Regions from separate parts of the Homo sapiens genome. Here region 1 is linked to region 2. A link means that fine-mapping ties the variant in region 2 to the expression of a gene that starts in the linked region. Tissue or cell type: whole blood. Region 2 holds a variant in brackets; the other region holds the start of a gene. All regions are shown on one strand. Distances are between the middles of the regions.

Region 1 (8,100 bases), 190 kb after region 2:
ACTGATCAGCTGACAAAAATGTTGTGAACAGGAGGCTCACAGCAACTGAATCCTGTATTTCCCCTAGGAGCGATGGTTTGGTATGTGCTAATTCAGTGTCTGCAGTAACTTTATAGAACGTAACTACCATGGTTAATGAGAATCAGCTGTAAATGTGGAACAGGCAGGAGGACCCTTCTTACTGAGCTAACTTTTAATAACAAGAGTCCCCGCCAGCTGGCGAGAAAGCTGCTTGTCCAATTTAAAAATAGCTTGGTAAATCCACAAAGAGTGCCAAATAAATTCTGGAGCAAGTCCAGAATTTATTGTTGTAGATTGCAAACAAGCATCTCTTCGAGTAGACCCGCTGTGCTATCCAATACAAAAAAAAATACACCACAAAATAGTTCATTTTGTTACATATACATATGTATTTTTATAGGTATATTGCATAGAAAAAAGGTCTAGAATGACATACAAAATGTTAACAGTATTATCTCTGAAAGCTGTTTTCTTTTCCCTGACAAAATGCTGAAAGACATATAGAAGAAAGCAATAAGGATAAATATGCAAGAAAACATAACGCTATCTGAAGTCTCATTGCCACTGAGTGGCCACTGAATACCTAAAAAGTGGCTAACTCGAATTGAAATGTGCTAGAAGTGTAAAATATGCGCACGGGGGGTTTTGAAGAGGGAGTTCAAAAAAGAAGGTACAATGTTTCAAGAATCTTTTTTCATTAATAATTTTGTATAAATGATTACATGTTGAAATATTTTTGATATCTTAGGTTGAATAAAAACATTATTAAAAATAATTTTTTTTTTTTGGAGACGGAATCTCGCTCTGTCGCCCAGGCTGGAGTGCGGTGGCACAATCTCAGCTCACTGCAACCTCCGCCTCCTGGGTTCAAGTGATTCTCCTGCCTCAGCCTCCCGAGTAGCTGGGACTACAGGCCTTACCACCACACCTGCTCATTTTGGTAATTTTAGTAGAGATGGGGTTTTACCATGTTCGCCAGGCTGATCTCGAACTTCTGATCTCAAGTGATCCACCCACCTCAGCCTCCCAAAGTGCTAGGATCACAGGCGGGAGCCACTATGCCCAGCCAAAATTAATTTTACCTATTTCTTTTTACTTCTTACATGTGGCTACTAGAAAAATTCTAAATTACATACGTGACTCACATCATATTTCTATCGGACCTGGATTCCTAGTGGAACAATGAACTCAAATCTTGAAGTAGGCTTTTGTCTCTCATTTTCAGGGTAACAGATAGGGCAAAATTCACAACAAAACCAAACAAAACCAAAAAAAGGATGATATCTGTTGCACAGACTTCTTTATCCAGCTAAAGAATTGCATTTGCCATTAGTGGCAAATGACTCAATGTTGGCTTAAGGGATGTAATTGGAAGTATTGTGTGCGACTCCCAGAAGTCTCCTTAAATTGTAGGTGGCTTGCACTTCTCTCTTCCCCCCTCCTCAAATCCTGTTGCCTGAAAGATGGATACAATGGCTGATGCTCTTGCAGTCATCTCAGACAAGGAGTTTGAAGGTCACAGCATAGACATGGCAGGGCGGTAAGCCAGAAAGATTCTTGACTTACCTCCAAATTCCTTCTACTGGAGAAAGAAATAACTTTCTATCTTGTTTATGCTAGTGTTATATTGGGATTTTCCATTATACATAGTGATTGGAAACTGACCTTTGAGTTATTCTGGAAGGAGTCTATCAGCAGAGACAGCTTCTTCTGCAGTTCCTGCAAGTCCCTTGAGATACTCTGGGGCTCCTCTTTTGCCATTCTGAAGCTCACTTCAATCTCTTTAGGGATGAATTATCCTACCAGTAAATTCTCCAGTGCAGCCCGCGGTCCAATCTCTCATGTCGCTCTGTCTCTTGCTGTTACCAGAGGAAACAAAAGCCGTTAGTGGTCTTCATCCATCTGGTTCGACGAGAGCTTCTACCATCCTCATACCTTGATGGTGGGCATGCAGACGGAGGGTAACCTGGCAATATTCACAACAATTTCAGATTGCACACACTTCAATCCAGGAATTTATATTCCAGGAACATGATGGAAATAATCCAACAGGTATCTCAAAATGTACTAAAAGGCTGTGCATTGCATCCCTGTTTATAACATATAATGACTAGCAAAACATTGGAAAGTAGCTAACTGTATTTCCATTAGGAGAAAATTGGTTAAATAATGATAAATTCAGTCATTAAAATGATAGTGTGACTGTTTAGTGATGTGAAAAGATGTGTATGATACTTTTAAAAAAAGATGATAAAATGTTAATAGTATTATCTCTGACAGCTTATGTTTATTTTTTAGCTTGACAAAATGCTGAAAATATACAGAAAGCAAGAAAGCTGAACACACTATTTCAAATCTCATTGCCTTTTATTCTCCCTAGAAAGCTTTCCTTGTACAACAGTAGCCTTGACCTGTTTCTCTTCTTTATTACTGTACAGGTTGGCTCCCAATTCCATCATTCCATACATCATCATCTACTTACTTGTGGGTAAGTCTATCCCTGCTAAGGAGAACTGCACCTCGGGGGCAGACCTCACCACAGTAATTATACTCTAACTAAACTGCCTGGAATTTTGAGGGGTGTCCCAATCTCATACAATTTTTACTTATTTTTAATAAAGGCAATTGGTTAAATTAGATATATTTTTTAACCCTTGTTGAGTTTTCAAATATAAAAAAAAAATCATTCTTATTTTATATTTCCCAGAACTGGCTGGACACAGAGATATCTTTTCCATTTCTCCCTTTAAACTGACCTGACCTACAGTACAAATGCTTAAAAGATTGTGTCCACGTGGCCAAAATTAATTGAGAGATCCTCACATTTATTTATCATATAGGGGGTAATTTTATCTACTACTAAGCTGTACAGGGTCTAGTATGCAAATTAAAGCACATTTTAATCATCCCAGCTAGACATCCTCTGCTACTTCCCTTTTGTAAAACAAGAAACCCTTTGGAGGGGAAAGTTGAGGAGGGGACTAATCCCACCACCCCACATTCTCTCTTTGAAGCTGCCTCTGGCGTAGGTCTTGAACTTGGGATGTTCCCAGCACTCAGTTCCCATAATCTCATCTCTGCAGCAAGCAGAAACAAGCGGAGTTCCCCTTACAGGTCTCCTTTGGCCTGGGAGCCTCAAGTGCCACCCAGACCGGTTTGGGGAGTCCGATGAGAGAGTGCGTGGGGCGAATGCCATCGGCCACAGCCTTCAAATGCGTCTACCTGGCCACCAATTCCCAGACCCCCTGGTCACTCACTCCTCGGAGGGGCCTCCCCAGGCACGGAGCTGTCTCCCGAGAAGGGAAAGCGAGAACCCGGCGCGGCCAAGGAGTGCCCCGCCTTCTTCACGCCTGGGGGACTGGGCCAGGCCAACACCAGCTAACCCTTTCCCCTTCCAAGGCTCCAAATAAATCTCCTGGCCCTCCCACCCCCGAACCTCCAGGGGAAAACGGCTACCTCGAAAGTTCAAGCTGGGAGGAGGGGTCACATCTCTGGTTGGGGGATGGGAGCTACAGGGCGCCTCGAGCTCACACTGGCCGCCCCTCCCCATCCGGGCCCAGCCTTTCAGCGTTCAAAAGCCAGGGAGACCCAAGGAGAGGAGGAAGGGAGTGAAATGCAGGTGGAGAGGGGGTCCGCGTCCCAGAAGGCACAGAGACTGAATAATGGGAACTCAGAGGGGAGTCGAGTACTTAGTTATTAATTTGGGGGTAAAGAAGCCCCCTTTGATACTTGCAGATCTCTCTGCAGCGATGGGGAAGGGGACCTCGGTGGAGAAGAGGGGCTGGGTGGTGAGGAAGGCGCCCGTTTTCAATAATCCTAGGGAGGTTTGCCTCGACGTCTTCCCCAGGTTCCCCAGAAAGGGGCACAGTCTCGGGGTGTGGTGGTGCTAGCTACCATTTTACCTAATCTAGTGGTAGTGTGTGTGTGTATGTGTGTGTGTGTTGGGGGGTGGCGGGGTGAGTGTGCATTTAGGGGTGGGGAGGAATCGTGTCTCCTCGTGCGCTCCCAGCCCCGTCCCGGCGACTCATAAGCAGGAGACGCCCCTTACACTAACCCCGGGGCAGAAAGCTACGGGCGTGGGACCCCGATAGCGCGCTCACGCCGTCGCCCCCGCGCTCCTCCTCTGTCCCCGCCCGGCGAGAGGGGTCTAGCCACCCGGGGCACCCGGACCCCCACCCCCAAGCTCCGAGCTCTCACCTGCTCCTGACCGCCGAGCAGCCCCCACCGCGTTTGCAGGCGAAGCGAAGAGAGGCAGGAGGAGGAACAAGAGGAAGAAGGAAAGAGCGTCCCGAGAGGGAGCCAGAGCCGCCTGCCTCCGCCCCCTGGCCCGGGCACCGCCCCTCGGCTCTTCTCCTCTGGGCTCGCCCCGCCCGTGGCCGGAAGGATCCGGCAAAGGCGCGCCAAGGCCCGGCGCCCAAGGCTTTGCAAAGCGCGCTCGCTCCCACTGGCTTTCGGAGCCACTAGAACAAGCCCTGAGAGGTTGACAGCTGAGGAAACTGAGGCTCAGAGAGTGTCCCTTCCCACACGACTGGCTTGGAGTGAGAAAGCTCAGACCACCTTCAAGACAGGCAGACTGGCAGCCGAGAATGAGTTTTCCAAGGGTGTCAGGGTTTCCCCTCCTGTATGCCTAAAACCAGCTGCTCTGGAACGTCTCTGGCGCTCAAGACACACACGTGATGAAGTATCACCCTGGCTGGAAGTTTTTAACCATGACTGCTCAAATGCGAATGTCATAAGCCAGTGAGATCCTTTCAGATGGATTGGATGTCCATTTTACACATGAAAAAGTCCAGGCTGAGAGAGACAAGATAAATCAATCCAAATTCCTCGGTTTGCATGGATCCAAGTCGGAGCAGGAGCCCCTGTTTCCCCTGGCCCCAAATCTGCCCTATAGAGTAAGGTTTCTGAATAGTATGCTATTGACATTTGGGGCGGAATAATTCTGTTTCTGAGCTGTGGATTGTAGAATGTTTAGCAATATCCTAGCCTCTACCCATTAGATGCCAGTTACAAGAACCGCCCCCCCCCACCTCCAGTTGTGTCTCAAAATATTGCCAAATGTCCCCTGGAAGGCCCCATCGTCCCGAGGTGAGAACCACTGCTATAGAGCATGATGGCAACTTACTGTGTGACTAAGTAACCTCTCTGAACCATGGCTTCAACCATAAATTAGAGAGAGGGATAAGCCCAACCATTGGTCTGCTGTTGCACAGTTCTCAGCCACTTTCCAGACAGGGACCTGTGTTGACCGACCTCTCCTCTTTGCCTGTGGCCATAGCAACCTGGAAAATAAGTCTTTAGATAACAAAAAGCTGGCAGGGTGCGGTGGCTCACACCTATAATCCCAGCACTTTGGGAGGCTGAGGTGGGCAGATCACTTGAGGCCAGGAGTTCCAGACCAGCCTGGCCAACATGGTGAAACCCCATCTCTACTAAAAATATAAAAACTAGCCAGGCATGGTGGTGCGCACCTGTAATCCCAGCTACTCGGGAGGCTGAGGCAGAAGTATCGCTTGAACCTGGGAAGTAGAAGTTGCAGTGAAGACACTGCACTCCAGCCTGGGCAACAGAGTGAGACCCTGTCTCAAAAAAAAAAAAAAAAAAAAAGAAGCAATCACAGGGTTGTAGTGAGGACTGGTGCAATAGTGTGGCTGTGGCTGTCGAGAACTTAGCACCTATTGAGGCACAGAGTAGGGGCTCAAAAATATTTGCTTGGGATGATGATTTATGATGATGATCACGACAATGATATGATAAACCACAGAATCCTGCTGTAATTCCACAATAGCAGAAAGAAGAGCTAATGGTGGGGATAGGACAGACAAGAATCCCTAAATTCTTAAGTTTTAGCCAATCTTGTCTGGCGTCATGCACTTTGTTCAGCTGCAAAATGCTGGGTTCCCCACCCAGGAAAAGATTGTGTGTGTGTGTGTGTGTGTGTGTGTGTTTCCTTAGATTACAGCCTTCCAATCATCATTCCCTAAATGGAAGTTGCTTTGGAAAGCTGAGTTAGGGTTTCCACTGGGATTTTTGTTTAAGAGTGCCATCTAGGGGCGTCTCTGTGAATCTTCAAATTCCTTCCACCTCTGGCATTTTTGGCTGGGCCAGCAGAGTTTTGCTTGTCTTTGTGTGATAGATGCTTCCTCCATCACATCATGTGTTCCTCCAGGGCTGGGATCCTAGCATCTCTCCATAGCATCAGGACTTGGCCCTCAAGGAACATGCAGTGGTTGGGTTAAAAAAATCCACGCGCAGCCTCTCCTATGCTTTCCCAATTACTTGCTGCAATGGACTGAATGTCTGTTCCTCTAAAATCCTAACCCCCAATGTGATGGGATTAGGCATGGGGTTTTTGGGAGGTGATTAGGTCATGAAGGTGAAGCCCTCCTAAATGGGATTAGTGCCCTTATAAAAGAGATCCCAGTGGCTCACACCTATAATCCCACCACTTTGGGAGGCCAAGGTGGGTGGATTGCTTGAGTCTAGGAGTTCGAGACCAGCCTGGGCAACATGGCGAAACCTCTTCTCTACTAAAAATACAAAAGTTAGCCGGGCATAGTGGCACATGCCTGTAGTCCCAGCTACATGGGAGGCTGAGGCAGGAGGATCTCTTGAGCCCAGGCAGTGGAGGCTGCAGTGAGCTGAGATTGCACCACTGCACTCTAGCCTGGGCAACAAAGTGAGACCCTGGCTCATTAAAATAAAATAAAATAAAATAATAAAATAAAATAAAATAAAATAAATAAAATAAAATAAAATAAAATAAAATAAAATAAAATAAGAATAACTCCCAGAGAGCTCTCTTACCCTCTTTCCACCATGTGAGGATACAATGAGAAGTTGGCAGCCTGCAACATGGAAGGGGGCCTTCACTGGAACCAGACCACCCTGGCACCCTGATTGTGAACTTCCAGCCTTCAGAGCAGTGAGAAATAAATGTCTCTTGTTTATAAGCCACCCAGACTTTGGTACTTTGCTATAGTAGCCTCCAAGGATTGAAACTGTTGCTCTGCTTAAACAACTATTTTAGGCCTCAGGAATGAGCTGCCAGGAATACCAGCCTCTGAATAAGAAATGTGTGAAATTTTTTTAGCAACAGATTAAGACCCTAAACTCTTGATAACAAGAGGCAGGGGCAACTTGGAACCTTGCTGACCTCTGCTCCCCATGTTGGCAGATTTGGCAAATAAAAACACACGACACTCAATTAAATCTGAATTTCAGGTAAATAATGGGTAACTTTTTAGTACAAGTACAAGTACAGCCCATGTATTGAATGGGACATGCTTATACTAAAACTTTTTTTTTTTTTTTTTTTTTTTGAGACGGAGTCTTGCTCTGTCTCCCAGGCTGGAGTGCAGTGGCGCTATCTCGGCTTACTGCAACCTCCACCTCCTGGGTTCAAATGATTCTCCTGCCAAAGCCTCCGGAGTAGCTGGGATTACAGGCATGTGCCGCCACGCCCAGCTAATTTTTGTATTTTTAGTAGAGACAGGGTTTCACCATGTTGGTCAGGCTGGTCTCAAACTCCTGACTTTGTGATCCGCCTGCCTCGGCCTTCCAAAGTGTTGGGATTACAGGCATGAGCCACTGCTCCCGGCCCTAAAACATTCTTTTACCTGAAAAATTGTTTGACTGAAACTCTAATTTAACTGGGCACCTTCTGTTTTGTCTGGCAGCCCAATTGAGAAACAAGGCCGGGCATGGTGGCTCATGCCTGAATCCCAGCACTTTGGGAGGCGGAGGTGGGCAGATCACTTGAGGTCAGGGGTTCGAGACCAGGCTGGCCAACATGGCAAAACCCCATCTCTACTAAAAATACAAAAATAAGCCAGGTGTGTTAGCACACGCCTGTAATCCCAGTTACTGGGGAGGCTGAGGCAAGAGAATCACTTGAACCCAGGAGGTGGAGGTTACAGTGAGCCGAGATCATACCACTGCACTCCAGCCTGGGCAACAGAGCAAGATTCCATCTCAAAAAAAAAAAAAAAAGAAAGAAAGAAAAAGAAGATTGAGAAACTTGAAGCCTATATCCTTTCTTAAGAATTATCCAACACAAAGTTGTCAGACAACAAACAA
Region 2 (8,105 bases):
AGAGCGCACCACGGTCACTCAGTACAGCACGTGTGCGCTGCTTACTGCCCTGTGCCTGCTGCTGCCTGTGCTGCAGGAAACAGCCCAGAGTCGAAGGATGGTCACCAGCCACCCGGAAGACAGTCCTGCTCTGGCACGCAAACACGGAGCATCGCAACCGGCCGGCCTCGGCTTTCCAAGAACTCAGACTGTCACTCCCGCCTTCACATTCCAGACCCCAACAGCAGCTGAGCCCGCACTTCTGAGCGCGTGGCTGGGTAGAGCTCCAGAAACTGAGACAATCACAGACATGGCAGGTGCGTCAGGGCTATGACCAGCTCTCAGGACTGGCAGCATCACCTTGTGGGATTCCCCACCATCCTATGAAATCGGCACTAATCCCGTAGAGGCCACCAGGAAGCTGGGGCCACATGGCAGGTGAGGGGGTATGTCAGGTCACCTGTGCAGGGGCAGACCCCATCTCGGCCACACTGGGGCCCTCCCCTGGCAGGAAGGGCAGGGCCAGACAGGGAGAGAAGGGTACTCAGAGGGCACTTCGAGCCAGAAGCAGAAACATCTACCCAGGAGATCTTTGCCAAGACAGACCAGAAGCTGTGGAGACCAACGGACAGGAGGGGGAGGCAGTGAGGCCACAGAGACTGCAGGCCTGCTATGTGCACCCTGGAAGCGGAGTCCTGCAGCCCTCGCCCATGTTCCCCATCCTGGGGGCTCCCTGCTGCCCTCGCACTGTGACACCGATGAAGGTCAGGAGCATGCGGGCACAGTGCCTGCAGGGACAGGGCTGCAGCGAGAGATGACTCACCTCGCTGTCCTGCGTGATCTGGACTTGCTCCCCCTGCGGCACCTTGGCGATGTGGAGGTGTCCCTGTGGGATCCGCAGCAAGAAAAGACACCAAGAAGCATCAGAAGAAAATAAAAAGCAAAGGAAACAAGAAACATCTTCCGGAATGTTTGTTCTTGATTATCTGTTTACAATTCAAAAAGATAACTAAATCCTGAATAGTGCAATATAGTCTGTGGTCACCTCTTTAAATTAAGCTTTTGGTTCACAGTAGTCCCCCTCATCCATGAGGGTTTCAAGAAGCGCCCCCTCCCCCCACCACGTGGACGTCAGAAACCGTGGATGGTGCGGAACCCCGTATATGCTATGCTTTTTCCTGCCCATACGTGCCACACAGCTTGGACATGCTGGACAAAGGAATGACTCACGTCCCAGGCTGGACACAGCAGGACGATCAGACTTCATCATGCTACTACCCAGAAGAGTATGCAATCTGAAACTTACAAATTGTTTATTTCTGGAGTTTCTCATCTAATATTTTCAGATCACAGTTGACTATGGGTAATTAAAACCTAGGAAAGTGGAAGCATGGGTAAGGGGGGGTACTGTGTAACACAGAACATGTTCCAGTACTTCACAAAGGAGCAATAGGTCCCAGGAAAGATATATACATCTTTAAATGTTACTAAACAAGTAAATTTTAAAATGTGCATGACACACAGAAAAGAGGGGAAATAGAAAATCACAATGACACCTCTTTTCAAATGATACGTTCAGCTCTCTGGGGATGCTGGGAGGCTACGCAAGCAGTGTATGGCTGAAGCAGGGGAGCTGTTTGCGTGCCTACACTCACAACAGGGCAGGCAACATTTTTCAAATCAAAGAAACACTCATATGACTATTTAAACAGTTTGAGGAAACACTAACAAATGTGATTCAAAAAAAATCAAAGAATCCACTGTTTATACATATGGGCAGACAAATATTTCCTATAAACCTGTAAATGAAATGAATACTTATCTTATTTGAAATTCTCTCTTAGTCGAAATGGATCTTAAACTCCTGTAGAATGTTCTATGTAAGCCTTATGACAAAGTTATCTACTCTGGAACGCTTTCAAAGAACTTCTTACTAACAAGATGAGAGGAACTGCCATTGTGAATGTCAAATAAATTAATAAGCTTATTAAATAAGATTCACTATTCATAACTGTCTCATCTCCTTTGGAAGAGGAAGGGTAATGCCCCCTCTAAAAGCCCCAGAATTTTCTGGAAGCCTTCCCTCTTCCAGACAGCACGCTGAAGCCACACTGAGATGAGAGCCACGACCCACTCTCAACAGTGGAGGACCTTGTTTCCAGGAGAAAGCCCTGGTAACACGGAGGCACACGATGACCTGTCTTCAGAGGGCCCAAGGGGGCTGGTGCCACTAAAAACATAGGCGATGTCTAGTGGTGCATGTAAAATTTCTAGTCACTCAGCAAAGCTTCCAGAAAAGTCTTCTTCTCAGCCGCCCCCTACTCTCGTGCCACAGAATCCAGGAGGTGTTTGTAGAGGGACTTCACCCGGGAGCGAGCCCCTAGGCGCATCAGACTGACCACAGCTTGGGTCACAAAACCCCAACAGAGAACTCCGCATGGGCAAGGCAGGACATTGACTTGCTGCTGGGACAGTGCCCGCCCAACCTGGGTGTGCTGAGTAACTCCAAGGGAAACGCTGCATGGGAACAATGACCTCAAGCTTTTGCCACTGATCCTAGAAGGAAATTACTCTTTCCCTCAGTAAGAGGACGCCTGCACTTCTGAGCTGAGAAATATTTCCGATGCTTCCCAGGAGCACGAGCTGGGGCAGGGACCACTGCACAGCCTGACCCTTGGAGCTGACTGCCCGCCTGCCTGCTGGCAGGACTGAGGTGAGCTGACTGAACGCCCCACCCCACCATGTGCTTCAATCCCTAGGCTCTGCAGCAGCCGCCCCCACCTGTGAAATGTTAAGAGCTCATGGCCATGATGACCTCTACTTTAAATGGGAACCTTGTGCCTCCTCCCAAGCTATCACTGTGCTCCCGAAACACAGCGGAACTGGTGGAAGCCGCCAGGGCCCTGCCGTGGCCCACCCCGCAGCCCCCTTTCCCAAGGTGCGAGGTGGAGAGGGTACGTACTACTTGCACCTGTCCGTCTTCTCCGATCTGGTGGATCTGCACCTGCTGCACGTTGGCCAGCGCGTAGTGCAGGGCCTGCGGCTGCGGCTGTGGCTGCAGGAGCTCTCTGGCAGGAGGTGGGGTGCTCATCATCGGCTCTGTGGGGGCAACAGGTGTGAACGGGGTGAACGAGAAGTTTCTTAGGCATTGCCTTGTGCAGCATGTGTGCACCCCCGTCCCTCACTCTCGACTCCCACAGCAGAGAAGAGGAAATGCTTCATTTTTCCTCGGCTCACTGCATCTCCACTCTTCTGCAGAGATCACTACGAGTGAGTCTTAGGAACTGAGGTTTCCGACATGGAATGCAGAAGGGCCTGAGAGTGGCGTGATGCTGCTATGACAAAACCCCTTTTAGTCCCAACTTATTTAAATGAATGAAGTTCTTAAAGTGGACATTAAAAGCTGTTTCAGGCTGGCAATATTTGTCCATGGGTAATTAAACTAATAGAGCAAAAGTCTCATCCACGCACTTAAAGATACATTTCCAACAAATTTTACTTGCTGTGTTTAATCAAAATGAGATACATTTGCTTTGATGTACTGTGTATTAATTTTCACTGTAATGATGTCTCAATCATAATTTTCTTAAACTCTTAGAATATTAAGAGCACAGAAAAACTTTAATTTTCATTGTATACACGTAGTTTTGTTGCAGAGAATTATAATGACTAATTTTAAAAAGCTTTTAAGCATAAAAATGTAGTCTGGGCA[C/T]GGTGGCTCACACCTGTAATCCCAGCACTTTGTGAGGCCAAGGCAGCCAGATCACCTGAGGTCACGAGTTCAAGACCAGCCTGGCCAACATGGTGAAACCCCATCTCTATTAAAAATACAAAAATTAGACAGGTGTGGTGGTGGGGGTCTGTAATCCCAGGCACTCAGGAGGCTGAGGCAGGAGAATCACTTAAACCTGGGAGGCGGAGGTTGTAATGAGTCAAAATGGCACCACTACACTCCAGCCTGGGCAACAGAGCAAGACTCCATCTCGAGGGGACAGGGGAGGGAAGCAGAAAGATGAAATTCTGTGAGAGAAGTAGAATGTTGATATGAATGAAAGGAGAAAAATGAAAGACATAAAATTTCTGATTATTAAAGAGAAGCGGGCCAGGCGTGGTGGCTCACGCTTGTAATCCCAGTACTTTGGGAGGCCAAGGCAGGCAAGATCACTTCAGGTCAGGAGTGCGAGACCAGCTTGACCAACATGGTGAACCCTGTCTCTACTAAAAATACAAAAATTAGCCAGGTGTGGCGGCACGCATCTGTAGTCCCAACTACTTGGGAGGCTGAAGTAGGAGAATCACTTGAACCTGGGAGTAGGCGATTACAGTGAGCTGAGATGGCACCATGGCACTTAGCTCCAGGCAACAGAGTGAGCGGGGGAAGGGACGGGGAGGGGCAAGAGAGGGGAGGGCAAGAGAGAGGAAGGAAGGAGGGGGGAGGGGAGGAGGGAGGGGAGGGGGAGGGGCGGAGAGGGGGAGGGGGAGGGGCGGAGAGGGGGAAGGGGAGGGGCGGAGAGGGGAAGGGGAGAGAAAAGCTTTCCATGTATTTTTTACCAATAGCTAATGGTAGGTATTAAATTGCCATAGTACATAGATTCCACTGAATACATTTTTTAAAGTAACAATAAAATGTTGGTTTTTTTTTTTTTTTGAGACAGAGTCTTGCTCTGTCACCCAGGCTGGAGTGTAGTGGTGTGACCTTGGCTCACTGCAACTTCCGCCTCTCAAGTTCAAGCGATTCTCCTGCCTCAGCCTTCCAAGTAGCTGGGATTACAGGCACCCACCATCATGCTGGGCTAATTTTTTTTTTGTATTTTTTTGTAGAGAAGGGATTTCACCAGGTTGGCCAGGCTGGTTTTGAACTCCTGACCTCAAATGATCCGCCTGCCTTGGCCTCCCAAAATGCTGGGATTATAGGTGTAAGCCACTGTGCCCAGCCACATAACAGAATGTTGATACTTGCAATATGCTAGAAATTGCCTAGCTACACTAAATCAGAATCTCAAATTCATGAGATTCAAAGGAGATTCAACATGCCCACCTGCATGCTGCATGTGGAGAGCTTGGCTCCAGCCAAAGACCCTGACTCCACCTGAGCACCTCCAGTGATGGGTCATGTCCCAAAGCAACCACCGCCAGGCAGTGCTGCGTGCTCCACGGCGGTTTCCTGTCCGCCTGAGCAGTTACAGAGCACTCACCACCACAGGTCCTCGAGCAAGCCTTGTGCACCCCAGGAAGAAAATGACAAAATCCCAGCTGGGCTGAAGCCCACCTCCGCGGAGCTGCTGTTCCTCCACTGACCCTCTTAGCACCTACAAAACCAGCCTAATTCTTCACTTATGTGCTGCTTCTCCAGGCATCTAACCATTATCAAACCTTGTGAAATCTCAATTTCTAACCGTTTCCCCAAAGACAACAGTTTCCAGCCCACTGCCACCATGACAGTCTGTCCCTGGACAGCTCCTCCCAGCAGCTCCAAAACGCTCCACTGGGGCCACAGGGTAGACAAGCTAAGAATGGGTGTGCTACAGAGTGCACCTTCCAACCACAAGGGCTCCGAGGAAGCTCCTGCACACCAGCGCAGCCAGCAAAACACTCGGCTTCACACAATGTTACACCACCGTCTACTACTGTGCAAATGTTCTGAGTCTACATTTCCAGCTATGAAATTTCAGCTCATTAAATTTACCCTTTCAAGATTCTGGTATCCTAATGACGCAGGCCAACATATCTGGCAGTCGTCAGGTTATATAACAGCAGCTTCTTGCTCACTAAGGTCCTGGCAAGTCATTTAACTTGGGTTTTGATTCCCCATTGGATGAAGCAGACCGCTAACCTTACCAAATGCACGTACCCGAAACACATGGAAGGCAAGCCTGGCAGCAACTCTCCTCGCTCTTCGAGTCTAGGAGTTCCATACGGTTCTTTTTTATGTCTTCTATTTCTCTCCTTGCTATGTTCCTTTTTTCCTTTAAATTCCTGAATGTAATTTTAATAGATTTCAATGTCCTGGTCAGTTAATTCCAGACAGGGTCCCTTCCTATTTACTGATTTTCTGATCATAGGTCACAATCTCCTGCTTCCTGGTACTCTGGACTAGATACCGGAGATTGTGAATTTTACTTTGTTGGGTGTCTAGGTTTTGCTGTCTTTCTTTTAAAAGTGTTGTTACTTGTGATTTAATGTGATCTTTCTCAGGCTCTCTTAAGCTCTGCCTTTATTCTAGGGACAGTTTAGCCTGCCAGTAGGCATGGCCAGCTAGTGCAGTGACTGATCACTGAGGACTCTGGCTAGTGGGAATCCAACCACCACCCAGCCTGGGGTGAGCTTAGGAGCCATTGAGCTCATGCCTGCCTTGGAATCCCCCAAACACCCAAGAAGGTCCCCGTGTAACCCTCTGCTCTTAAGAACTTGATTCCACAACTTTCTGCTGCCTCAGCCTCTCTCAACTCCAACCCATCTCCTCCATGCAGTGATGTAGCTATCTCTGCCTGGCATCTCCCTGTCCCCTCCTCTCATGTTCCTTCTCTCAGGATCACGGTCCTGTGCTGTTGCTTGTCTAATGTCTTAGGACAGCCGATTCACAGATTTTTGTCCAGATTTCAATGGCAAGAGAATTCAATCTGGTTCCTGCTACTGTGCCTGACAGAAATTGTGCCTGACAGAAATCTCCTCTCCTTGACTTTTTTTTTTTTTTTTTTTTTTTTTTTTGAGACAGAGTCTTGCTCTGTAGCCCAGGCTGGAGTGCAGTGGCGTGATCTAGGCTCACTGTAAGCTCCGCCTCCCAGGTTCACGCCATTCTCCTGCCTCAGCCCCCCGAGTAGCTGGGACTACAGGCGCCCGCCATCACGCCCGGCTAATTTTTTTGACATTTTTAGTAGAGATGGGGTTTTACCGTGTTAGCCAGGATGGTCTCGATCTCCTGACCTCTTGATCTGCCCACCTTGGCCTCCCAAAGTGCTGGGATTACACATGTGAGCCACAGCACCCGGCTTTTTTTTTTTTTTTTTTTTTTTTTGAGATATAGTCTCGCTCTGTCACCCAGGCTACAGTGCGGTGGCATAATCTCAGCTCACTGCAACCTCTACCTCCTGGATTCAAGCAATTCTCCTGCCTCAGCCTCCCAAGTAGCTGGGATTAGAGGCATGTGCCACCACACCTGGCTAAGTTTTGTATTTTTAGTAGAGACGGGGTTTCACCATGTTGTCCAGGCTGATCTCGAACTGCTGACCTCAGGTGATCAGTTTGCCTCAGCCTCCCAAAGTGCTGGGATTACAGGCATGAGCCACCACGCCTGGGCTCCCTGACTTTTAAACAACATTTTTTACAACTATAAAATTAATGCAGTGCTTATTGGAAATAACTGAGAAACTACAATAAAAGACAAAGGGAAAAATAAAAATTATCCTACTACCTAGAGATAGGCACTGTAAAAATGATCACACATAAATTTTTAATCAACTTCCACATATACCTATATATTTGCAATAAAAATGGTATCATGCCATAAGTATAGTCCTCACATCGCTCTCTGCTGCCCAGCTATGAATATTCAAGAGCAGAAGTCAAGTCATGAGCAATATTCCTACAGCCACATTTCAATAGCCACAGGTTACGCTGCTACATGGTATTTCAGTGAATGCCCCTAACCCACACCCTAGGACTGCTACCTCTCTCAAGTCCCAAGGCAGAATTCCTCATTGTAGTAGAAAGGCCACTGTACTCCAGCCTCAGCAACATAGCAAGACTCTGTCTCAAAAAAAAAAAAAAAAAAAAAAAATTAGGAGATATTAGAAATTGCCAGATTAGCAAAAGCTAAGAAAATTTGCTAATACACCTGCCCTATAATATAGTTCTTTCAGCTGAATGAAAGGACATTAGATGGTAACATGAAGTCACATGAAAAAATAAAGAGCTCCAGTGAAGGTAACTACATAGGCAGATATAAAAGCCAGTGTTATGATAATGGTTTCTTTTTCCTTCTATATGATTTAAAAGATAAATGCATAAAATAATGATAAACATGTTAATAGGCACACAATATAAAGATGTAATTTGCAAAAATACCAACACAAAGAGGGGCTGAAGCTTGACAGAAGAGCTTTTGTATAGTATTAAAGCTAAATTGT

Evidence for each region. PIP is the estimated chance that this variant, and not a neighbour inherited with it, causes the effect.
Region 1: LDAF1 starts here. The variant in region 2 is fine-mapped to the expression of LDAF1 in whole blood (TOPMed, PIP above 0.99).

Annotation. Positions count from the first base shown.
Region 1 is chr16:21,154,865-21,162,964 of GRCh38, reverse strand. It overlaps LDAF1 (lipid droplet assembly factor 1), which reads right to left and starts at 4,291. Exons shown (of 5, transcript NM_001301771.2): 1 at 4,219-4,291; 2 at 1,687-1,880. The coding sequence starts at 1,782. It also overlaps a transcript of DNAH3 not described here. RefSeq lists enhancers at 3,010-3,159, 3,294-3,794 and silencers at 4,052-4,231, 4,282-4,411.
Region 2 is chr16:21,342,128-21,350,232 of GRCh38, reverse strand. It overlaps the pseudogene SNX29P1. Among named protein-coding and RNA genes, the nearest start is that of CRYM, 68 kb to the right of the region's middle. RefSeq lists a silencer at 1-59 and enhancers at 1-419, 420-1,227, 2,380-2,939. The variant C/T (reference allele first, on the strand shown) is at 3,692.